Linked DNA regions of Homo sapiens. The protein of the gene in region 7 purifies or fractionates together with the protein of the main gene of each other region. This does not show direct contact. Each region holds a gene or a part of one and is shown on either strand. Other genes may lie near its edges.

Region 1 (3,500 bases), on a different chromosome or scaffold from region 7:
TACATTTCAGGCGGGCCTGTGGCAAACCACAAGTCACTCCAGGTGGCTGCTGTGCAAAGTGCCAGAGGAGAGGGGACCAGAGAAATGTCTCTGATTACAAGGCTAAAGAGTAGACTTACCAGGTGCTATGGCTTGTGCTTGTAATCCCAGCTACTTAGGAAGCTAAGACGGGAGGATCACTTGAGGCCAGGGGTTCAAGACCAGCCTGGGCAACATAGTGAGCCCCTGTGTCTACAAAAAAATTTTAAAATTAGCAGGGCATGGTGGTATGCCTGCATTCTCAACTACTTAGTAGGTGGAATGCCTGTAGTCTCAGCTACTCAGTAGGCTGAGGCAGGAGAATCACTTGAGCCCAGATTCTGAGGTTAGCAGTAAGCTATTGGTGCACCACTGCACTCCAGACTAGGCAACAGAGTGAGACCCTATCTCTTTTAAAAAAAAGAGTTGGAATCAGCCAGCCACGGTGGCTCACACCTGTAATCCCAGCACTTTGGGACGCTGAGGCGGGCAGATCACCTGAGGTCAGGAGTTCGAGACCAGCCTGGCCAACATGGCGAAACCCTGTCTCTACAAAATACAAAAATTAGCTGGACGTGGTGGTACTTGCCTGTAGTCCCAGCTACTTGGGAGGCTGAGGCAGGAGAATTGCTTGAACCCAGGAGGCAGAGGCTGCAGTGAGCCGAGATCGTGCCACTATACTCCAGCCTGGGTGACAGAGTGAGATTCTATCTCAAAAAGAAAAAAAAAGAAAAAAGAAAAAAATGGAATCTATACCTAAAAAACCTGGCTGCTAAACAGTTATAATTTTGCCATTTGAGGTGTAGAAAATTACCTTAGGAGTTTTACCTTAGCACCTCTTTTAAACCTGTTGAAATGAAACATTTTTCAGGTAGGATTTTTTCAGCAGTATACATTTGTGTGATGATCTATCTCCAATTCTTTGTCTTTGATTTTTTTTATTTCTCGTGGCTGTCTTCTTTCCAATCAGGATGTTGAGAACGATGGGCCTGAGCCCTCAGACTGGGACCGGTTTGCCGCTGAGGAGTATGAGACGCTTGTTGCAGAGGAATCTGCCCAAGCACAATTCCAGGAAGGGTGAGTAAGTTTCCCTATGTCTTATAGAATTTTTAACAGGAATGCGCATGTCCAGAGTATTAAAACCCCCTTACAAAATCCTTTTCTGTTTTTTCCATTTTTGAATAGCATAAAAATGTGATTTAGCCAACTTTAGTTAAATGATTATTTTTTCCAGCAATCTTCACTCATTTCCTGACAGAGTCTTCTCATGTCCATTTCCTTTAATGAGTCTCATCTTTCACTGGAAACCGAGATCACTGAACAATCAAACTACTGTTTTAGTGATATTGATAAACCCTGTACATAAAGGAGGAGGCTAAAAGAACTAAAGCTCTGGCCGGGCACGGTGGCTCACGCCTGTAATCTCAGCACTTTGGGAGGCCGAGGCGGGTGGATAACCAGAGGTCGGGAGTTTGAAACCAGCCTGACCAACATGGAGAAACCCTGTCTCCACTAAAAATACAAAAAAATTAGCCGGGTATGGTGGTGCATGCCTGTAATCCCAGCTACTTGGAAGGCTGAGGCAGGAGAATCGGCTTTTACCCGGGAGGCAGAGGTTGCAGTGAGCCGAGATCATGCCATTGCACTCCAGCTTGGGCAACAAGAGCAAAACTCCGTCTCCAAAAAAAAAAAAAAAAAAAAAAAAAAAACTAAAGCTCCTTCAATAATAATAAAGATGATCATGTTTAGAACAAATCTTTATTATACATGGTTTTGTGCAGGAAGTAACTTCTACATGTATTTCTACTAGTCAGGGCATAATTCCATAAAGGGACCATGTTAAGAAATTTAATTATCCAAGAATTTGACTCCTTGGATCACTTCAGCAACTTTATAATTTGCTGGTTTTTTCCATCATCTTCTAGTAACTCCTTTTGTAATTCTTCTAATTCTTCCTTAGTCATAGCTTCTGTAAAGGCCTCAATTAATCTTTCTCATTAATGTAGTGTACTTTTTGAACAGGCACTATTCATATAATATTCAAAGAAACAAAAGAAATAGTAAAAAGTTTCCTACTACCCACTTCTCCTCCCCAGAAGCAACAAGTGTCATCATGTTCTTGCTTACTCTTCCAAAGAGCCTCTCTCTCCACCTATCTATGTATATTTAGAAAGATACATGAATTCTTTTTTTTTTTTTTTTTTTTTTTTGAGACAGTCTCAAATGTGGTCTCTGATGTGGTCCATTCAGGTCAGCCTCCTGAGGCATAGAGATAGAGGAAGAGCAGGTCTAGAGGGATAAACAGAAACTATCCAGCCCCATAGATAAAGTCAAATAGTCCTCAATATAGATTGTACCATTTTATACCTCTACCATTCATTAAATATTATCTTTTTTGAGGGTGCTGAACAAGCCATCAGCAAAGAGCTTTCTTTCACTGAGAGATTTCTTTAACCTGCTTAGCCACAAAACTAGGATTTCATTTTTATGGCAGTGACCTGGAAACCCTTAAAATCATTCATCGTGCACTCAGTATCTTAAGCCTGACTGCATCAGAATATAGGAAAATGGATTCACAAGCATGATTTAAAGGTTTTTTTGGCATTGAGCTTCCATACTAGGAATTAGGGTTAGCATACCAATCTTAAGAAGCAACAATGCTGCAGTTAAGAATATGTGTGGATTGGCCAGGCGCAGTCACTCATGGCTGTAATCCCAGCACTTTGGGAGGCTGAGGCAAACAGATCACTTGAGCCCAGGAGTTCGAGACCAGCCTGGGCAATGTGGCGAAACCCCATCTCTACAAAAAATACAAAAGTTAGCCAGGTGTGATGGTGTGTGCCTGTAGTCCCAGCTACTCAGGAGGCTGAGGTGGGAGGATCACTTGAGTATGGGAGGCAGAGGCTGCAGTGAGCTGAGATTATGCCATTGCACTCCAGCCTGGCCTGCAGAGCTAGCTAGACCCTGACACACACACACACAGCAAGTGTGGATGTTTATAATAGTGAAAATTTGGAGGCAATCTAGGTATCTAATGGGAAGATTAATAAAATTATACTACATGTACCCAGTACAGTTCCATTAAGCATTAAAATCATTTTGTGGATGTGTACTTCTGGACTTTAATTAGGAAAAACGGGATGAGGAAGAAGACTATGAAAGATCAAGTAAAATGTAATAGAAAAGAAACAAAAAAAGTATCCAAAAGAAAATTAGGTATAGGTAAGGAAAGCAAATGGGATCTTATTTATGTGTTTTAGACAAAAGAATATATGAAATAGTAAAGTATATTAAAAGACAATAGGAAAGCTTTTTTGAAATAAAAGAAAACCTGAATAGGAAAGGTCAGAAATCACGCCATATCCAGGAAATACTGATAATGAATAGTGATGGACCCCAGATTTGCATTGTGAATTTACTAGAACTCAAGGATGAATAAAGGTTTATCATTGGGTTTTTTTTTTCCAGTTTTAAAAATTCAA
Region 2 (3,500 bases), on a different chromosome or scaffold from region 7:
GGACTGGATGTATTTGTCAAAACTTACTGCATTATACACTTAAAATTGATAAATATATTGTATATAAATAGTACCTCAATAAAACTGGTTTTTAAAATGGAACGAAAAGAAAAATGTAAGTTTGAGAGCAGGTATATTAGTCTGTTCTCACATTGCTATAAAGAAATACCTCTAGCATGGCCAATATAGGGAAACCCCATCTGTACTAAAAATATAGAAATTACCAGGTGTAGTCACATGCTTGTAGTCCCAGCTACTCACGAGGCTGAGGCACAAGAATCACTTGAACCTAGGAGGCGGAGGTGGCAGTAAGCTGAGATTGTGCCACTGTACTCCAGCCTGGGTGACAGAGCGAGACTCTGTCAAAAAAAAAAAAAAAAAAAAAAAACCGAGACTGGGTAATTTATAAATAAAAGAGGTTTAATTGGTTCATGGTTCTGCAGGCTATACAGGAAGCATAGCAGCTTCTGCTTCTGGGGAGGCCTCAGGAAACTTACAATCACGGCAGAAGGCAAACAGGGAGCCGGCACTTCACATGGCCAGAGAAGAAGGAAGAGAGCGGGGAGGTGTTACACACTTTTAAACAACTAGGTCTCATGATAACTCACTCACTATCATGAGAATGGCACAGAGAGGATGGTGCTAAACCATTAATAAAGGATCCACTCCCATGATCCAATCACCTCCCACCAGGCCCCACCTCCAACCCTGGGGATTACAACTGGACATGAGATTTAGGTGGAGACACAGATCCAAACCATATCAGCAGGTGTCTGTCACCCCACTTCCTCCGACAATGCAGTTAAACAGAAGTGCCACCATGCATCAGCACTAGTTACTAGGAAGGGCAACCACATGCCAGATAGTGGAAACTTCAAGGACTTTCTGCTAATTGTTGATTAGACTCGATTAGAAGAGAAATAACAGGAGGCTGAGGCAGGAGAATCATTTGAACCCAGGAGGTGGAGGTTGCAGTAAGCCAAGATCGTGCCGTTGCACTGCAGCCTGGGCAACAGGGCGAGACTTCATCTCAAAAAAAAAAGAGAGAGAGAAATAAACTAGGACCAAGGAAGTAGCTTGGTCTCCAAGAAATAAGTAGAGATCCTGGATACACACAAAACCTGCTAACTTGCAGAGGCCAGGACAGGCCCTGAATAAGCATGGGACCCTCCATTTGGAGTTCTCAGCTGCTCTGGAATGGTGGTATCTGAGGGCACCCCTTAGACCTAGAATTTTCACCAAGCTTAAGGCCTCAGGTAAAGACAGTGGATTTTCTTCTTCTTTTTTTTTTTTTTTTTTTTTTTGAGACAGAGTCTTGCTCTGTTGCCCAGGCTCGAATGCAGTGGTGCAATCTCAGCTCACTGCAACCTCCAACTCCTGGGTTCAGGCAATTCTCTCTGCCTCAGTCTCCCGAGTAGCTAGGATTACAGGTGCCTGCCACCACGCCTGGCTAATTTTTTTGTATTTTTAGTAGAGACAGGGTTTCACCATCTTGCCCCAGCTGGTCTTGAACTCCTGACCTCGTGATCCACCCACCTTGGCCTCCCAAAGTGCTGGGATTACAGGCATGAGGACCGCGCCTGGCCGAGGGTGGATTTTCTTAAACCTCCTGGGCAGGCCACATGCCCTGGAAATAAGACAGGCTGAGAACTGAAGGAGCCTTTCCTGAAGAATGGGTCAATAAGTAGCCAACTCCAGACAGCTGGTTCTGCAGAAGCAGCGGGGCAGCAGCAGCAGCAAGAAGGACCAAGCAGAAAGAGGAGGCCCCTGATCACACAGGAGGGCAGCACAGCCACCCCAAAAGGGCTCCAGTGAGGGCCAACAGGACTAGCTGAATTCCAGATAAGCCCAGGGCACTGACCACACGCACTCGGCTTCGTTCCCCAAACCCTATGAAAACAACAGTGAAGACTATGAAAGGCATAAATTGCTTTTATGGGAGAATGGGAAGGGAGCAAGCAGCAGATGAGATTTCAACAACTTTTGGAAAGGCAGGAAGTGAAATAGTCACAAAGGAGGGGCCAGAGGGGAAGCAAGCTATATGTCCCATTGGCATGCGCAGGCATGAGGGACCACGGGAGGCTGGGGTAAGGCATGGAGCTAGAAGCAGGGCTGCAAGTTTGAACAGGCTGTTGGGGTCCTGGGTCCGCTCCCAGCACCTACCCACCCACCCAAGAGATCATATCTCCCAAAGCCACTCTTCACCAGAGAGTGGCAGTTTATTCTAGAGACTTTACCCATAAAGGCTGAGGAGTCAGGGACCAGACGTAGCAGAGGCCAAGTGGAGGCATGAGGCTAAAATCAGGAAGCAGGTGAAGTATTCCTACTCACCTGGGTGACCCTGTCCCTCTCCCCACACTGGTTCTCAGACACCAGCAGAGGAGTATGCGCACCCCACCAGCCCTGCAGAAGGCTGGTGAAGTCTTCCCTGGAAAACTGACAGATACCCCCAAAAAGAGACTTCCACACATACATTTTCCCTAGCAGTCAAAAAGTGAGCCTGAGATCTGATCACTCTACAGAAAACCCTGTGGTCAGGCCTTGGGAACTATAACTTCTAGTGGATATTTTCCACATATCCCCATTTTCTTTCATTTTTTTTGAGACAGAGTCTCGCTCTGTCGCCCAGGCTGGAGTGCAGTGGCGCAATCTCAGCTCATTGCAACCTCTGTCTCCCGGGATGAAGTGATTCTCCTGCCTCAGCCTCTCGAGTAGCTGGGTTTACAGACATGCTGAGTCACCACGCCCAGCTAATTTTTGTATTTTTAGTAGAGACGGGGTTTCACCATATTGGCCAGGCTGGTCTCAAACTCCTGACCTCAGGTGATCCATCCGCCTCGGCCTCCCAAAGTGCTGGGATTACAGGCATGAGCCACTGTGCCCAGCCAAATTCCCATTTTCAACAATGCCCTGCCCTTGCTTGAAACCCAGGCCCCCAGTGCCTGAGTTCCAGAAGACCTTGACAATAGTGAGTGCTCAAAAGGGCGAGATCGTTCTTTCTTATTGTTGTTCTTACGACTAATTCTCATCAAAACTCTTCTTCGTAGATGCGCAGATTTAAGTGTCCTCTACTCTGTCACATCAGCCTTCCTAACTCGTCTTCATTTTCTACCTTAATATATTTAGGGTGCGTTTGTGTGCAAGTGTGTATAAAAATATATGCCTTCTCATTTCATCAAAACTGGAGATTTATGTTTCTATTTCTTGTGTTCCTGGTCATTTTAGATGATTTCCAAGATATGTCTTTAATCTACCCTCTTAAAACTAAATAATTAAATGACCATATTTCTAAAATGTAGCATTTAAAGGGAACATGGCTTTTAAAATCATCACGGCATACAAAATATCATTATTAAATGGATCACTTTGTGCTAAAAGTCAATCATTTCTATTGTCATAATATTCAGCAAATGTCACCAAAAATCACTAGAGGTCCTTAGCTATCAGCAGCTGCTTATGGAGAGACATTTCTTTAACAGTCCAGGTTGCCACTAACTGCC
Region 3 (3,500 bases), on a different chromosome or scaffold from region 7:
CGGCCCTGTCATCGGCTGTCCTTACCTCACCGGCCCCGTGTCAGGTCTCACCCCGCCCCTCTGTGTCCGCGCACCCCACCTGACTGACCCCGCATCCCCCGGCTGCACACACACCCGTCCTCCCACTCACCCGTCCTCCCCACTCACCCGTCCTCCCACTGACCCGTCCCCCCACTCACCCGTCCTCCCCACTCACCCGTCCTCCCAGGGCTCTCCCGCAGTCTCCTCGGCCACCAGGATGTCGTACTCCTCGGCCGCGTACTTCTCCCAGTCCGAGAGCTCGGGGCCGCCGCTGTCACCGTCCTGGAGGAAGCACACGGGTTACGTACACGGCGTGGCGCGGCCCGGCCCGCGTGCCCGCCGCACTCACCCTGAGCAGGGAGATCTGCTCTTTCTGCTCGTGGTCGAGGTACTTCTCGATGTTGAAGAAGGTGTCGAAGAAGACGTTAGCCAGCTTGCAGCGCTTCAGGTCCTGCAGCGTGATCTTCCCTGCGGGGAGGGGAGTGCGTCCAAGGCGCGTGAGCCCGGTCTCACCTTCGGGGCCTGGGTGTGGGGTGCGCGCGTCCTGTCACACGTGCTTAAGGACGCGGCACGAAGCTCCGGGCTCTCACGCCACGTGTTTGACGTGAAAGGCGGACACGCGAGTGTCCTGGTTCTGGGTGGGGACTGAGGCGTGGGAGGCCGTGATGCGGAGGCGACTAGGGGCCACCGGTGCCCCAAGGATGCGTGGACTGGGACTAGCGCAGGGAGGCGCGGCCAGCAGGGGCGCTGCTGGATCTGAAATTACAGAGAACGGAGCTCCCCGTGCAGGCAGAGGCCAGAGGGTGTCCCGGGGACACTGAGCAGCAGGAGGCGCCCCATGGCCGGGGGGGGCAGGGCTGCAGGGCGGTGCCCGGGCCTCAGAGCCATTTCCAAAGTGAAAGTCCCAGAGCTGGATTCTGAGATGCAGAAGGAAGCCAGGCGGCGTGGACGGTGGGGCTCCCCTTTGCCTTAGAGGGCACGGGGGTGGGTGGGAGGAGCTGGGGAGATGGTGTGGGGGGAACAGGGGTGAGGGGAGGAGCCGGGGGGGGGTGAGAGGGGAGGAGCCGGGGGGGTGAGAGGGGAGGAGCCGGGGGGGGTGAGAGGGGAGGAGCCGGGGGGGGGTGAGAGGGGAGGAGCCGGGGGGGGTGAGAGGGGAGGAGCCGGGGGGGGATGAGAGGGGAGGAGCCGGGGGGGTGAGAGGGGAGGAGCCGGGGGGGTGAGAGGGGAGGAGCCGGGGGGGGGTGAGAGGGGAGGAGCCGGGGGGGGGTGAGAGGGGAGGAGCCGGGGGGGGGGTGAGAGGGGAGGAGCCGGGGGGGGTGAGAGGGGAGGAGCCGGGGGGGGTGAGAGGGGAGGAGCCGGGGGGGGTGAGAAGGGAGGAGCCGGAGGGGGTGAGAGGGGAGGAGCCGGGGGGGGGTGAGAGGGGAGGAGCCGGGGGGGGGTGAGAGGGGAGGAGCCGGGGGGGGGTGAGAGGGGAGGAGCTGGGGGGGGTGAGAGGGGAGGAGCCGGGGGGGTGAGAGGGGAGGAGCCGGGGGGGTGAGAGGGGAGGAGCCGGGGGGGTGAGAGGGGAGGAGATGGGGGGGGTGAGAGGGGAGGAGATGGGGGGGGTGAGAGGGGAGGAGATGGGGGGGGTGAGAGGGGAGGAGATGGGGGGGTGAGAGGGGAGGAGATGGGGGGGGTGAGAGGGGAGGAGATGGGGGGGGCGAGAGGGGGGGAGGAGCCGGGGGGGGTGAGAAGGGAGGAGACGGGGGGGGCGGGGTGAGAGGGGAGGAGACGGGGGGGGGGGGGGTGAGGGGAGGACCGCCTTGTGCGGCATCAGCACGAACGTGGCAACTGCTCCCTCAGCCCAGTGCCAACGTCCCCGGTGAGCTCCGGCCCTAGGTTCTCTAGGTCACCCCTCGGGGGGTGTCGACGCCCCGAATAGGAGGTTCTTGCACTGTGAGACTAGGCACCTGTGGTGCTGGCCCTCCTCACAAACTCAGTAGGACAGCGCCTCACAGGGACGTCCCCTCACCCTGGTCCGTCCCCCCTCCCGTCTGTCCCCTCACCCTGGGCCGTCCCCCCTCCCGTCCGTCCCCTCACCCTGGGCCGTCCCCCCTCCCGTCCGTCCCCTCACCCTGGGCCGTCCCCCCTCCCGTCCGTCCCCTCACCCTGGGCCGTCCTCCCTCCCGTCCGTCCCCTCTCCCTGGGCCGTCCTCCCTCCCGTCCGTCCCCTCTCCCTGGGCTGTCATCCGTCCCCTCTCCCTGGGCCGTCCTCTCGCCCGTCCGTCCCCTCACCCTGGGCCGTCCTCTCGCCCGTCCGTCCCCTCACCCTGGGCCATGCCCTCACGGGGCATCACCTTCAGTCCTCGGCTTGACCAGGTCCAGCATCTGGCAGAGGCAGTCCTGGAAGGGCAGGGCCTCGATGGCCATGCTGTCCAGCCTTCGGCACTGCTCCTCGTAGAAGTACTCGAGCTCGAACATGGACAGGGCGCCGTCCCCGTCCAGGTCCATGCAGCGGAACCAGTACTCGATGCTGCGGCACGGCGAGCTCTGTCAGCCCCTGCCCTGGGCCCTCCCAGCCCGTGACCTGCAGCCCCTGAGGCAGCCCCCACCGGGGGTGCACGCGTCCCCGCTGTGCCTTGCAGCCCCCACCGGGCGTGCAGGCATCCCCTGCCCCCTGCCGCCCCCACCGGGCGCGCACGCGTCCCCCTGTGCCGTGCAGCCCCCACCAGGCGTGCACATGTCCCCCTGTGCCGTGCAGCCCCCACCGGGCGTGCACATGTCCCCCTGTGCCGTGCAGCCCCCACCAGGCGTGCAGGCATCCGCCTGGGGACACATGTCACATGGGCGGCTCCCGGCCCCTCCACTGGGACAAACGCATGCCGCAGCAGGAACCCACCTGGTCGGTGTTTTTTTGTCTTCCTCAGAGATCAAAAACCAGACAAAGTCGGCATAGCTGATCTTCCCTTCCTTCTGCACTTTTCTGCCTCTAGATCGAAAGCCAGGATGGAGAGACGAAGATGCATGTCAGGGAGAGCTTCACAGGAACGGAGCCCCTGTCCACGCGCCTCGGTGAGGGGAGCCCCCCGGGCCCGGCCCTCCTCCTGCCCCCCTCCTGCCCCTCCTCCTGCCTCTCCGGGGAGGAGGTGGAGGCCCCGTGGCCAGAGGGTTTTCCCCAGATCCAGGCAGGGTCAGGAGTGCACCTTCGTTACTGCTCACTCAGGCCCAGCGCCCGACAAGAACCCCCGACCTGGGGCCTGGGCCACCCCCTTCCTCAGACTTCGCGTGACAGTCTTGTGCCACCCCCCCCCACTAGGGATTCACGTGACAGAGACACGTGCCCCCCTCGCCAGGGCCTGGGGTGACAACCACTCGCTGTCGGGGCACAAAAAGCTCACGTCAGGCAACGATGAGGAGAGGGACCGGGGTCCTCGCAGGGGCAATGGCTGCCGTCAGGCGCCTGAGCCGTACGTACCGTGTGACTGCTCCTGAGAAGATCC
Region 4 (3,500 bases), on a different chromosome or scaffold from region 7:
GTAGCATCCCAAGATGTTCTTTGTAAAGGTCTTTAAACCCAATAATATTTCCATAAAATTATAAACGATACATTCTTGGATATTCTTTTTCTAGTCAACCTTGTACTGATTCTAACCTTTCCTTTTAATACTCACAATCTGAGTCTGTGATAGCCATGCAGTCCTACAAAATTGTGGAATCAAATCATACAAATATTTGCTGAAGCACCCACTTAGTAGGATCAGAAATGCAAATACGGCTGGGCACGGTGGCTCACGCCTGTAATCCCAGCACTTTGGGACGCCAAGGTGAGTGGGTCACTTGAGGTCAAGAGTTCGAGACCAGCCTGACCAATATGGTGAAACCCTGTTTCTACATAAAAAAAAAAATTAGCTGGGCATGGTGGCTAATCCTGTAATCCCAGCTACTCGGGAGGCTGAGGCAGGAGAATCGCTTGAACCTGGGAGGCGGAGATTGCAGTGAGCCGAGATCGAGCCATTGCACTCCAACCTGGGTGACAGAGGGAGACTCCGTCTCAAAAAAAAAAAAAAAGAAAAAGAAATGCAAACAAATTTAAAATGTCTCTTTTCCAGGTTCTTAGCAAAGATTATATGCAAGTCTGAGATATGCTTGAGTATTCTTAAGTGAATTTTGAATGAGCCTCTTTCATTTAGTGTTTAGAACTTAGTTTAAAAAAGAATGAATATATCATAGTAACTCAAAAAGGCTAACCTAAGTACACTGATTGGAAAAATGTACAGTTTAAATTATATACCAATATGTTATGCTTCTTATTTTCCTAACTGAAATGTAAGCATTTTTTTTAGAGCCAGAGCCAGGGAATGCCTCTTGTTTCTAGTCTTTACTTGCAAAATTTAAATAGTTATAATTATTTGCCCCTTATGATTAAGGAGCTCCTTCCCAAAGCAGCATCTACTCTTAGCTAAATTAAACTCTTTATTTCCAGGCCTGCCTTACATTTGCCTAAAGAAAACAGTTTCTCATATTACCAAAGTTCTTTGACATGTTAAAATTTATATAAATGTTCCAAGAGAGAGCATTGAAGTTGTGGAATGCTGTAGGTTTTAGCACTTATTTTTAAATTGCAGGTTCTTACAGTCAAGTTACATTTCTCTCATCTATTTATAATCAGGATTAAATCTTCTGGCATATCTTTATCCTCTTGATTTTAACACTTAAAGATAGGAAATCTTCAAAAATTTTTTATCATGTACTGGCCCCACAGGTAAAATAAAACTTCGAACATGTTATCTTTAGTATGTCTGTTTATTTATACACCATATATGTACTATTGTTACTATATTATGAAACACAAAAGTAAGCCTTTGGAAAGGATGAGATAATAAAGGTAAAATAATAAATAATTCTAAACTTATACTTACTAAAGATAAAAATCTTTTGCAATATAATTAAATATTAAATATGCTTTTTTTTAAAAATTATGGCTTAACATTTTAATGGTGTGGTTTCTAAGTTTACCTAATTTTAATGGCTCTCAGAACTGAAAGTTATAGTTGACAACAAATGTAGATCCAGGTGGAAGAAGGCCATAATTATGCTTATTAAATAATGATTTATTTTTCAGCTATAGATGTCTATCTTCCCTGATATCAATAATTTATTCTTATAAATCAATGAAAATATTTTTACATATTTTACAATGGGTTAAAAATTATTATTATTATTATTTTTTGAGACGGAGTTTCACTCTTTTTGCCCAGGCTGGAGTGCAATGGCATGATCTTGGCTTACCCCAAACTCCTCCCGAGTTCAAGCGATTCTCCTGCCTCATTCTCCTGAGTAGCTGGGATTACAGGCATGCACCACCACACCCAGCTTTTTGTATTTTTAGTAGAGACGAGGTTTCTCCATGTTGGTCAGGCTGGTCTTGAACTCCCGACCTCAGGTGATCGGCCCACCTTGGCCTTCCATAGCGCTGGGATTACAGGCGTGAGCCACTGCGCCTGGCCCCAAAGTTAAAAATTCTTAGTTTCGAAGACTTTAAGTTAGAAAATTTTGTTTCTGAGACAGATTTTTGGCAACAAAATTTTATAACAATGGTAATATATCCAAACCAAAGGCTCCCTGTATTGCATGAAGGTAGATATACTTGGTATCTTTAGCTGAACTTTGAATGAGCCTCTTTCATTTAGTATTTAGAACCTAATTCAAAAAAGAATGAATAAGTACTTTCTCAGTTGTTTTTTAAATGTCACCTTTACCTTGAAGGACAAGATTAAAAGATTGTGTGTGGTACTTTTTAAAAATATGTTAGCACATTACTGACAACTATTTATTATCACCAGAAAGATAAACTTGAAACTTCAATTTTTTGCTTCAATTTCCATGGTTTGTCTTGGCTTTGAATGATGATATTTCTTCCCTAAAACAAAATTAAATTTTTCTGTTAGACTTTTTGAGAAAATTATAGTAGTTGTATTTTTAAAATTTTTTCTAAATTGAAAAATAGAAATGTGAAGGCAATTTAATAGACTGTTTTTAATTATTAAAGTTTTATAATTCTAAATGAAATATTTGTTTTAGGTTCAGTTCCGGAAGGTGTCTTAGAGGACATTAAAGGTAAACTAAGTTCTCATTTTTGTCCCTTTCATCCTTAAGTGTTACTTTGGAGGGCATATGCTTCTAAACATTTACACAGATAGAAAATATATTCATAATGTAATATCCTAAAAGTATTTAATATATAGGTTATGGGATACTCTAAGTACAAATTCCACTTTTTTTTCACACTTAGGGAAGCTGTGGCATAGTGATGATGTGTTACTGAAGCAGCTTCTCAATTGTATACAGAGTATACAGGGTTACCAGGGAACTAGTATTTTGCAGTGTGAAAGAACAGTTAAATTGCTTAAGAAAGCTACTGGTTTGATGTAGTATAATGTTTTTTACTCTAGTTTTCTTTATACATTTTTCTAAGAACTTCCGGAATTGTGACCAAAGTACTACACAGTACATTGTTTTCACCTAAGTGAGATTTATTGCTTCTACTTTGCTAGGGTGAATTTCTATGATAAAGTTCAAATTGGGTTTTCTGGTATTTTTATTCACTAAAATAAAATACATTTAAAATATAATCTTCAATACTTGGCATGTCATTAATGTTAATAATTTAGGATGTTTAATAGATAGACAGTAATGGATTTTAGAGTTAAATGAGAGCTGGAGATAATCTAATACAGTTGGGGCTGTGAAATGTTATTTGTCCAGTGTCACACAAGTAGGTAGGGTTAGAGCTCAGGCTACAAAATAGATCTTGCTTTCCATTATATTACCTATTATTTTTTATGTGTTTTAATTACCTAAATTCTTTTCAATTGTTATAAAATTTCAATCATTTGTAATGCTTATTACAGTAGTTCAAATAATACAGAAATATCTCAGGTAAAATGGTTTCCTTTCCTCTCTTCCATTTCTATCCTCCGTGATATAACAGTTGTTGACCATGTGGAGTGTTTTCTTTTCATATGACCTCCAACCT
Region 5 (3,500 bases), on a different chromosome or scaffold from region 7:
AAAAATCCCCTTCATCACTTCAGGAGACTGACACACACAGGAAGGTGCCAGAAATTCCTCAAGGAGTGTAGGAACAAGGCCACATACCTCAGGGAAGGCTTCCTGAATGTTGGTTGCATGTTGATAGCTCATTATTTACTGAACAAACACATACATCTTCTCCATTTGTTCCTCCCAACAACTCTATGAGGTTGGAATTCCTTTCCCCTTCCACAGATGAGGACATAGGCACAGAGAGGTTAAGGAGCTTGCCCACGGTTAAGAGCAGTAAGAGGTTAAGGAGCATTCCCCATGGGGAATGTGTGCGCTGGCTCCAAAGCCATTCTCCTAACCGCTTTGCCACACTGCCTCCCTCCTTGAAGCCCCACTGTGTCCCACAGTCCGTGGAGTGGACAGACATGCAAAGAGATAATGAAGTCCTAGCCAAGCTGACTGGCTGGAGCGCCCCTGGCGACGGAGCAGTGACTGCTGTAGAGAACTCACCCTGTAAGCTACAAGATTCAATGGAGTGAGTGTCGTGTCTGAGATATGGACAGAGTGCATTGGGAGCATCCATAAGGGCCAGGGATGGGACAGTCAGAGCCCTGGGAGCATGGAGGACAAGAGGAGACCTTTGAGTAGGCCTTGAGTCATGAATAGCAGTTTGCCAGATGAGGAAGTAGGTGAGAAGCAAATATCCGATGGACAGGACACTGTGCAAAGGCTTGCTCTTTCAAAAAATGAACGGTGGACATAAGAAACCTTCAGGACCCAGGGCCATGAGTCACGAGTGTCAGTGACATGGGGGTGGCAAACTCTGGGCAAGATGGGGGCCCTCCGCCCTGCACTGAATGGCCCGGGCGGCTGAAGCCTGCGATACTGGGCTGGTTTCCTATGGCCTTCCTGCCACCTGCCCCTAAACACACTGAGGCCAAGCTGCGGATCATCCTCTTGCCAGCAGCAATCACTATGTCTTCTTGTCACTTCCTAGCTCTGGACTACCCTGGTCTGGGCACCACATTTACGTCGTGTGTAAGTAAGAGTACATAGGCCACGAGGAAGCATCTGCTGTGTGATTGGGACGCACGGATGCCGAGGTCTTCGGCCTGGCTCCCTGAGGGAACTTTTGCTCCCTCTGTAGTTCTGGATTGGGCTTTGGTGAACGGAGGGCTCTCGTTGCCTTCCAGATGTCTGTTCTGCCCCTCACTGCGTCTCTGGAACCAAGATGGTGCCTGGTACAATCTCTGCTCAGTAAATTCTTGGTGAATGAAATGTTGCTGACTAATCTGGAAAGAACACCAGTCCAGGCATCATGAGGCTTGGGTGTGAGCCCTGGTTTGGCTACTTCTTGGCACGTGGCCTTCTTTAAGTCTCAGTTCCTCATCTATAAAATAGGAGTCAAGCCGTGTACGGTGGCTCATGCCTATAATCCCAGAACTTTGGCGGGCCAAGGCGGGAGGATTGCTTGAGCCCAGGAGTTCAAGACAAGCCTGGGAAGCATAGAGAGACCCTGTCTCTGCAAAAAATAAAAATGAAAATTAGCCGGGTGTGGTAGAGCACGTCTGTGGTTCCAGCTACTCTGGAGGCTGAGGTGGGGAGGATCGTTAGAGCCCAGGAGGTCAAGGCTACAGTGAGCTAGGATTGTGCCACTGCACTCTAGCCTGGATGACAGAGAGAGTCCCTGTCTCAAAAAATAAACAAATAAAATAAAATAGTGACAATGACCCTACCTTGCAGAGATGAAAGAAGGCACGTGTGCACACAGCCCCTCCCTGGTCCACGTGCAGCTGCCGGCTGACCCACAGGTGGTTCCCAGTGAACCATGGGAGGGACAGCACACACGGCGGCCTGAGGCCTGGCCATCTGGCCTGCTCACTGGCAGAGGGGAGCATGTAAGACATGGCACCCTGGTCTGTACCTGGGACAGTAACTGACCAGGACCCCAAGACATTCTGCCAAGTGGCCCTTGGCCAGTCAGGTGAGACCTAGCCTCACAGCAGTAGAGGGGCCAGGAGGACATGCTGTGGTATGACCAAAAGCCACAATCATGTCACAGGAGTGAGTGGGCCCTGGCCTGGGGCTTGAGAACACCCCGGGAGGCAGCCTGCCATCCCCCATCCCCAATCCTCCCCCAAACGTCCCAGAGGCCTCTTGCTGGAACCCAGCCTGGTCCTCCCTGTGAGGGGAGGGAGTGTGTGGCTGTCAGTACCTCCCCACTGCAGAAGGAGCATCCCCCGAAGCTCTGGGGGCCCAGAGCTGACTCAGACCCAGGCTTGGCCTGGTGGACTCACAGGTGGGGGAGGGTGTCAGTCACAGATAGAAAGAATGACCACGCCACAGGCCGGCGGCTCTAACAGGGAGGCCCGCAGACAGCCTGGAGCTGTAGGGGTAGGGTGCAGGGAGGGTGCTGTGGTGTGGGGACACTTAACTGGCGTTGGGGATGGGTAGTTGGGAGCTGGCCAGTAGAGCTGAGCAGACGTGGCTCAAACCCCAGCCCACTGGCATGTGACATGATACTTTGGGCTCCCTTCTGCTGTCTCTGCTTCCACCTCTGTGCAGTGGTAATAAGAACAGGCCTCCCTCCCATGGTTGCCTTGAGGAGGAAATGCAGATTCATGGGCACACTGCCCTGGTGCCTGGTCCACAATTTGCCCCAAACCCCAGGAGCTGCTGTGATTGGTTAGCATGGCTTCCCCCACGGCCATGGCCATGATTTAAGAATAAAGAGAATTCTGCCTGCCAGAGAAGAGCAGGGAAAGGGCATGCCTGCAAAGGGAACAGCCTGTGCTGAGGCTCAGAGGTGTGAAATGGCAGGGAGTATGTATTAGTCTCTTCTCTCATCGCTATAAAGAAATACCTGGCTGGGTGCAGTTGCTCACGCCTGTAATCTCAGCACTATGGGAGGCTGAAGCGGGAAGATGGCTTGAGCTCAGGAGTTCGAGAGCATCCTGGGCAACATGGCAAAACCCCATCTCTACAAAAAATACAAAAATTAGCTAGGCGTGGTGGCTCTCGCCTGTAGTCCCAGCTACTCAGGAGGCTGAGGCAGGAGCATCTCTTGAGCCCAGGAGGCAGACATTGCAGTGAGCTGAGATGGTGCCACTGTATTCCAGCCTTGGTGACAGAGAGAAAGAGAGACCCTGTCTCAAAAAAACTAACGGACAAACACAAAACAAAACAAAACAAAACTGGGTAATTTATAAAGAAAAGAGGTTTAATGGGCTCACAGTTCTGCAGGATGTATAGGAAGGATAGTGGCCTCTGTTTCTGGGGCGTTCTCAGGAAACTTACAATCATGGTGGAAAGTAAAGGGGAGGCGGCATGTCTCATGACGACAGCAGCAGCAAGAGAGAGATGGTGTGGGGGCACACTTTAAAACAACCAAATCTAATGAGAACTCACTCGCTCTACAGTACCAAGGGGAGATGGTACTAAACTAAACCATGCGTGAGAACTCCGCCCCGTGATCCAGTCACCTCCCACCAGGCTCCTCCTCCAACACTGGGGGTTACAATTCTACA
Region 6 (3,500 bases), on a different chromosome or scaffold from region 7:
AAAATCATCATGAACACCACTGCTAAGTAGGACTAGAATAGGAACACAATTCACATTAGAAAGTAATGGAGGAAATCACATAAGCTAAAATAAAATATCTCTTCAACTTAAATATTCTGTTTCCTAATAAAAAACTCAACTTAGGCAACAACTCCTTTTCATTAAAAGTCCATCTTTAAGTCATTCGCATAGTCTCAAGCATAACCTGCTTAATTACAAAGGGGAAAACATAACTCTAAAGCGGAGAGCTCTGAAGATCATCACATTAACAAGTGACCAAACTTAGCATCACCAACAGTGTGACAACATGACATAATGTGCCTTCTGATGGGATGCAATAAAAAATACATAACATCACTTCCACAGCACTCTTGCCAAATACGTTGAACCTGAATCTTACAATGAGTAATGAGGTAAATCCACAATGTGGGACATTCTACAAGACAACTAGCCTGGACACCTTTAAAAAGTCATGATCACGAAAACCAAAAGGTTGTGGATTAAAAGAGATTAAAGAGACCCAACAACGAAATGTAATGTGTGAAACTTGCAGGATCATCAATTTTAAAAAAAACAGCTATAAAGGGGGCATTTTGGGGGCAACTGGAAAAGCTTATACATAGACTGTATACTAAATGACATTACTGAATCAATGTTTTCAGGTGGGATTGTGGTTATGTAAGAAAATGTCATTATTCTTAGGAGATACATGCTTAAGTATTTAGAGATGAACACTCACATTGTCTGTAATTTTCAAATGGTTCATAAATATAGTTAAGTATACTTATAAAATATAGATACGCATTTCAGAATATAGAATATAGATGTCCCCGTATTTTTTAATACAAAATATAGATTCTGCACGTATATATAGGTGCTACGTATGTATACACATACACACAGAGAGAGAGAAAGAGAGAGCGCCAATGTGTCAAAATGTTAATTGGAGAATCTAGGTGAAGGATATATGGCATCTGAAATTTTTCAAAATAAAAAGTTGGAGGAAATCGGTAAGAAAGGAATACATACCATGGCAGTCCTAGACTTGATAAACCAGTCAAATCTAAACTGGGGAGCATTTCGTACACACTGTCTTAATTCTTCATATACATTTTCTCTATCAAAGCCCATTTTGTGTAACATACAAATCAAGAATCTATCTTCTTCCTCAGTATAGTTCTTTCCTTTGCTGGTTCCATACTGAATGCGCAACTGATGAAATGGAGCCTTGTATCTTGCAATCTGTGTATTTAAACAAAATAGTGCTTTTAATTGAATGTGCAGTAAGAAGTCAAAGCTGACCACTATTTCAATTAAAACGATCTAATAATAATTTGACATAAAACATAGTACTTTGGCATCCAGGGCTTTCTTGATACTGATCCTTCGTTGAATTCTTGCTTCTCCACGTTCAATTTGAGCCATAATTTTCTCAATGTCCTGTAATTCATTGCAACGTTCCCAAAATACAGCTGAAAAACAGAGTTATTTCTTTAAAATCCTATCATTTAAGCAAATAAATCCAAGGAATTGTAGAATAAGGAATTAATAGGAAAGAATACAATGAGCTTGTACTTCTTAAAATTAAGATTCAGATTAATCTTATATATATAATATGTTAAATTATTAAATACTACTAACTTTTCACTTAAAAATAAGACCTCAAAACAAGGTTTTAGGTTAGCAATTTTCCTTCATGAAATAGTACGGAGTCTTACGATCCATCCCAAATGACTAGGATTTCAAAAGATGATGCAGATACTGATTTAAGCTAGGCTTTTTACTCAAACATGATAGAAAAGGGACCAAACACATAAAGTGACACAGGAGAGAGTAATATATAAACAGTGAATATAGCTTCCTAGCATGCGAAAACAATTATGGGCCAGGCACAGTGGCTCACACTGTAATCCCAGCACTTTGGGAGGCTGAGGTGGGCAGATTGCCTGAGGTTGGGAGTTTGAGACCAGCCTGGCCAACATGGTGAAACCTCATCTCTACTAAAAATACAAAAATTAGCTGCACATGGTGGTGCGTGCCTGTAATCGCAGCTACTCGGGAAGCTGAGGCGGGAGAATTGCTTGAACCCGGAAAGTGGAGGTTGCAGTGAGCCGAGATCGCGCCACTGCACTCCAGCCTGGGCGATTAAGTGAGACTCCATCTCAAAAACAAACAAATAAACAAAAAACCCAAGCTATTATGAACAGGTTGTTCAAATTTTTTTCTATGGAGCAGCCATTTCTCTTGAAATTGTCATTTGCTTTTGGAATCACTCACTAATCATCTTACGGTATTTCCAATGACCAGTAGTGTGTTTTTAAACTTACTTGGAATACCCTTTTCTCATAAAAAAAAAAAAAAAAACCTCATTGGGATTTTAATTGCATACACACTGAAAAACATTCCAAGTCACTCAACCAAATTTTATAGATGAGCCAAATAATCTGGCTGTATTAATATGTCACATGACTTCAATGAAAGGCCTTTTAATGACATACTCCACATCCTCAAGCTTTTCATTTTTAGAGCCTATCAAGAAAGGTATGTGAGCACTCTGATTTTTATAAGCACCTGTGTTCATTTACTCATTCACTCACATATTCATTCAACAAATATTTAAACACTTGCTATGTACAGGATACTGTATATTCATGGGTGGTCAATTGTACACATTTCTTCTCTTACTGTAACCAACTACAACAAACTCATTGCAATCTCCTCACCCTGTGACATGGCCCCCAACCTGGCAGGCAGCAATTAAATAGTCCTGAGCTAGTCATGCCACCTGGCTTGGTGTCAAATTTGAAAGAAAGTCTGACAGGATCATCTTTTTAAATCACATTTTTTTCTTGCAACTTCACATACACCGATGTTATCTCCCTGCCTATCTTCTGAAAAAAATTCTTCTTAAAAATCTCTCTGCACATACCCTTTTACATTCTTTTCATTCAACTCTTGATGCTAAAATTTCTCTCTTCAATCTATTTTTTCCCCTAAGCCTCCAAATGCCCTAAATTTATGTGCTAAATGTTCAGAGTAATAGTAATATCATGCTGGTATGAAGGAAAAGGAAGTTCATATACTTAATGTTATATTATATGTAATAAAAACTCAATACAACTGACCTCTGAAGTCCCCCAGAAGACTCTTTTAGATTTCCAGAAGAAAAAAAAATCTCTCTAATTAAATCTGGATTTCTTCAAGCACTAGCATGCTAGATAAATTAAAAGCTGTTCCTAGCTATTATTAATCTTTAGTATATTTATTGGTACTGTAATGTTTCTTTCCTACTATTGCAAAAACAGAATTTCAGTGGTAGGGTTAAATAGATTTGGGGCAGGGGCTATCATAGAAACTTAAACCTACTTTGTAAACTTAAACCTACTTTGCCATTGTTTCAATGACAAAAAATGCTCTAGATTCTAAACATCTTGTTTCAAATGATAAGTTTAAGAGCTGAACCTATTTGGAAGTTAGAAAAGTCCCATGTACTACATATA
Region 7 (3,500 bases):
GCAGGAACAAGAAAAATAGGTAAACAAAAGATAACTGCAGACATGGTACCAGGAACAAAGGTTAGAAAGTGGAGCACTGTAAGCCCAAGAGAGTCAATCTGGGAGGCTTCTTGAAGGAGGAAGGCATAAAATAGGGCTGTGTGGGAAGAAGTAAGTCCCAAAGGAGAAGAAAACATGTTTGAGCATCTAGGGCTGGAGCCATGGCCTGCAGCAGCTGCACAAGCCAGCATGGGAGGGAGAGCGGCGAGGCATGGGCTGTGGTTTGTGGAGGTTCTTGTTGGGCCGGTTCCCCCAGCCTCTGGCCTTACCAGGTTTCTTTTACTCCTGCAGAGGAATCCCAAGTGCCAAAACCTCCTCCAGAGTCTCCAGCCCCACCTTCTCGGCCTCTCCCACCCCAAACCCTTGAGGGTCTGCAGCCAACAGGACCTGAGGCTGGGAGCCCAGAACGGGCTCCAGTCCAGAACAGCCCCTGGAAGGAAACCAGCCTGGACCACCCCTATGAGAAGCCCAGGAAGTCTTCTGAGCCCTGGAGCGAGTCCAGGTCAGGATCAGGGGGAAGGGAGAAGGGCAGGGCAGGGCAGGGAGTCGGTGGGAGCTATGCTGGGGATGGCTATAGGCTGGGCAGATGGAAAAGTGGAAAGGTGGAGGAGAGAGCTCCTGCAGTCGTGGGATGGAGGTGTGAGCCTTGATAGTTCCCCAAGGGTGCTGGCAGTTTGCCCTACTAACTTTGGGAGCCCCTTCCACTGCATCCCCATTCTTCTGCACCTCTTGAGCCCCTGAATGGAGGCATTCCTGCCACTGACCTGTCTCTAATCCTTTTGCAGCAGCCCAGCCACCACACCACAGGATGGGCCCAGTGCCTCCAGCCTGTGGCTTCTGGAGCCTGCCTCCTACCACGTGGTTCCCATCCGTGGTGTTCCTGGCCAGTGGCAGGGCCGCACCAGTGCCCCAGCCACCCCTGAGATACAGGGGAGGAGGGGCCAGTCGCAGTCTCTGAGGTAAGAGACAGCTTCCCCAGAGAGATGGGGGACCCACTTAGAGCTTATCGTTGGAGGGTGGGAGCTCCCAGGACACAGGTGGGACAACCCTGGGTGACACATGGCTAGTGCCTTGACTTCTCTTAGGATCTCTTCTTGGGGCGCCTCTTGACAGAGAATGCACTGCACCCCACTAAGCCAAAGGCCATCCATGAAGCAAGTGGTTTTCTTCCAAAGACTCTAGTTTTGTCTTTTTGCATAACTTGATTCAAATTTTCTACCCTTGCCATGTTTCCTTGTGCTGGTAGATTATTATTGGTCACTGACAATAGGCAACTCACTTTTTCAATTGATGCACAGTTGATTCTCATTATCTGTGGTAGTTATGTTCTATAAAGTAAAATTGACGCAAATCCTGAATTAGCAAATACTGAACCCTTGCCCCTGGGGAAATATAGGGTTAGGTTCCCGTGAGCCTTTGGTCACGACATTTTGCATCAACTGATTAATATATAACCTTATGTTATGTGAGTTTCTGCTTAAGGACACCTTACTTAATATGGGTTGTTGATTCATTAACTCATGGCCAACAGCACTGTAACTCATACCCAGATGAAGCTTACCTAGCACACATATTTTCTCCACAAGGCACACCACAGCCTTTTCCCAGTATGCCTTAGGGAGGAACAGTAGACAGCACTTTGGCACTGTATTTGGGGGCATTTTAAACAGCAGAATCACTAATCAAAGCAAAAACACACACAGTACATAAATATGCCACAAAAAGGACACTGTGCACTTACAGCATGAGAACTGAAACATGAGGGCAGAACATGGCCTCGTTTAACCTCAGAACTTAAAGAGACTCAAATTTGTCACTTTTCTGCAGTGTCCAAGAATGACCATGAAAGCACTGTGTATATTGCTTTGGGGATTAAAAATAAAGTTTAGCAACTAGGAAAATTACAAATACTGAATCTGCAAATAATGAGAATTGACTGTATGTTACTTTCTAAGTCATCTGCTACTTGGTAATAGTTTAAATGGCTAAGCGTTGACAGGCAGTATTGGCCATACCATATGGGGACTGGGGCACCATGAAAGCACTGCTGAATTCTCCATCAGCTTAAATTGGCTGGTCAGGCAGCACTGAACTGGGGGCAGCTTGGGACAACTGCTCTCAAGTAAAGCAATGGATTTTGTTTAATTTTTAAATTTTTTTTGAGGCAGAGTCTTGCTCTGTCATCCAGCCTAGAGTATAGTGGCGCAATCTTTGCTCACTGCAACCTCCGCCTCTCAGGTTCAAGCGATTCTCCTGCCTCAGCCTCCTGAGTAGCTAGGATTACAGGCGTCCGCCACCACACAGCAATAGATTTTATATTTTACATGCTACGAGGGCCATTTTACAAACCATGCCTTTGTGCAAATTAGGAAAAGGCAGACACAGCCCCATACCTGGGTGCATTAGTAGAGTGAAGTGAAGGCTGGATTTCAGCCCCTGCCGGTCTTGGGCTGCAGGTAACTGCTCTGGGTACCACATGACAGCTTTTACACGTTCAAGTAAGGTACCTGGCAGTGCCTACCGAACAGATGCTGTGGATGATCTGCCACTGGACACGGTGTACCTAAGCTGAAAGTACTTAATGTAGTACTTTAAAAAAAGTAGTTAATGTAGTACTTTAAAAAAAGTAGTTAATGTAGTACTTTAAAAAAAGTACTTAATGTAGTACTTTAAAAAAGTACTTAATGTAGTACTTTAAAAAAAGTACTTAATGTAGTACTTTAAAAAAAGTACTTAATGTGCTACTTGATGTAGCACACTTTACACGAATCACAAGCTTGTGAATGCAGCAGGAACACTTTTGCACACAGGGAAGGAATGCGTTGGCACCCACGCAGCCCGGCAGAGGGTTTGTTGGTTTGCTTTGGGAGACTTGACCTAAGACCCTTGCACGAGGGCCATGCTTGGGCCTTGAGGTAGAGCAGGACTCACCTGTTTTAACTCCACCTCCCGCCCCAACCCCAGTGTGGAGTTTCTGCCCCCCACACTCAGAATGCCTCTCTTTCCCTCTTCAGGGTGGATTCCTTCCGGGCGGGTCCTGAGGGCCGAGGTCGCAGCGCCTTTCCCCGCCGCCGCCCCACTCACTACACGGTGACAGTGCCAGATTCCTGCTTTCCCGCGACCAAGCCCCCGCTGCCCCACGCCGCCTGCCACTCCTGCTCAGAAGACAGTGGCTCTGACGTCTCCAGCATCTCCCACCCCACTTCGCCGGGCAGCAGCAGCCCCGACATCTCCTTTCTGCAGCCTCTCTCCCCTCCCAAGACCCATCGTCACCGCGGGGCCTGGGTCCCAGCCGGCAGCAGAGAGCTGGTCGCCCACCACCCCAAGCTACTGCTGCCGCCTGGCTATTTCCCGGCGGGGCGGTACGTGGTGGTGGCTGAGAGCCCCCTGCCGCCTGGCGAGTGGGAGCTGCGCCGCGCAGCCCCGGGCCCTGCTTACGAGGAGGAGGGCACTCCCCTGCG

Evidence for each region.
Region 1: the proteins of INAVA (region 7) and PPP2R3A purify together in Homo sapiens (co-immunoprecipitation; one large-scale study listed by IntAct). This does not show direct contact.
Region 2: the proteins of INAVA (region 7) and CRTAP purify together in Homo sapiens (affinity purification with mass spectrometry; 2 studies listed by BioGRID and IntAct, with this or other methods). This does not show direct contact.
Region 3: the proteins of INAVA (region 7) and PPP2R3B purify together in Homo sapiens (affinity purification with mass spectrometry; 2 studies listed by BioGRID and IntAct, with this or other methods). This does not show direct contact.
Region 4: the proteins of INAVA (region 7) and ACTR10 purify together in Homo sapiens (affinity purification with mass spectrometry; 2 studies listed by BioGRID and IntAct, with this or other methods). This does not show direct contact.
Region 5: the proteins of INAVA (region 7) and HHIPL1 purify together in Homo sapiens (co-immunoprecipitation; one large-scale study listed by IntAct). This does not show direct contact.
Region 6: the proteins of INAVA (region 7) and SMARCA1 purify together in Homo sapiens (affinity purification with mass spectrometry; one large-scale study listed by BioGRID and IntAct). This does not show direct contact.

What each region holds. Positions count from the first base shown.
Region 1 is NC_000003.12:136,105,228-136,108,727, forward strand, and holds part of PPP2R3A (serine/threonine-protein phosphatase 2A regulatory subunit B'' subunit alpha), read left to right. Parts: intron 1-988; coding exon 989-1,095; intron 1,096-3,500. UniProt on the Homo sapiens protein: The B regulatory subunit might modulate substrate selectivity and catalytic activity, and might also direct the localization of the catalytic enzyme to a particular subcellular compartment.
Region 2 is NC_000003.12:33,120,514-33,124,013, reverse strand, and holds part of CRTAP (cartilage-associated protein isoform 1 precursor), read right to left. Parts: intron 1-3,500. UniProt on the Homo sapiens protein: Necessary for efficient 3-hydroxylation of fibrillar collagen prolyl residues.
Region 3 is NC_000023.11:338,408-341,907, forward strand, and holds part of PPP2R3B (serine/threonine-protein phosphatase 2A regulatory subunit B'' subunit beta), read right to left. Parts: coding exon 3,476-3,500; intron 2,990-3,475; coding exon 2,900-2,989; intron 2,534-2,899; coding exon 2,358-2,533; intron 490-2,357; coding exon 371-489; intron 304-370; coding exon 197-303; intron 1-196. UniProt on the Homo sapiens protein: The B regulatory subunit might modulate substrate selectivity and catalytic activity, and might also direct the localization of the catalytic enzyme to a particular subcellular compartment.
Region 4 is NC_000014.9:58,217,149-58,220,648, forward strand, and holds part of ACTR10 (actin-related protein 10), read left to right. Parts: intron 1-2,545; coding exon 2,546-2,581; intron 2,582-3,500. UniProt on the Homo sapiens protein: Part of the dynactin complex that activates the molecular motor dynein for ultra-processive transport along microtubules.
Region 5 is NC_000014.9:99,648,129-99,651,628, forward strand, and holds part of HHIPL1 (HHIP-like protein 1 isoform a precursor), read left to right. Parts: intron 1-3,500.
Region 6 is NC_000023.11:129,464,491-129,467,990, forward strand, and holds part of SMARCA1 (SWI/SNF-related matrix-associated actin-dependent regulator of chromatin subfamily A member 1), read right to left. Parts: intron 1,473-3,500; coding exon 1,354-1,472; intron 1,243-1,353; coding exon 1,030-1,242; intron 1-1,029.
Region 7 is NC_000001.11:200,908,400-200,911,899, forward strand, and holds part of INAVA (innate immunity activator protein), read left to right. Parts: intron 1-330; coding exon 331-541; intron 542-824; coding exon 825-998; intron 999-3,053; coding exon 3,054-3,500. UniProt on the Homo sapiens protein: Expressed in peripheral macrophages and intestinal myeloid-derived cells, is required for optimal PRR (pattern recognition receptor)-induced signaling, cytokine secretion, and bacterial clearance.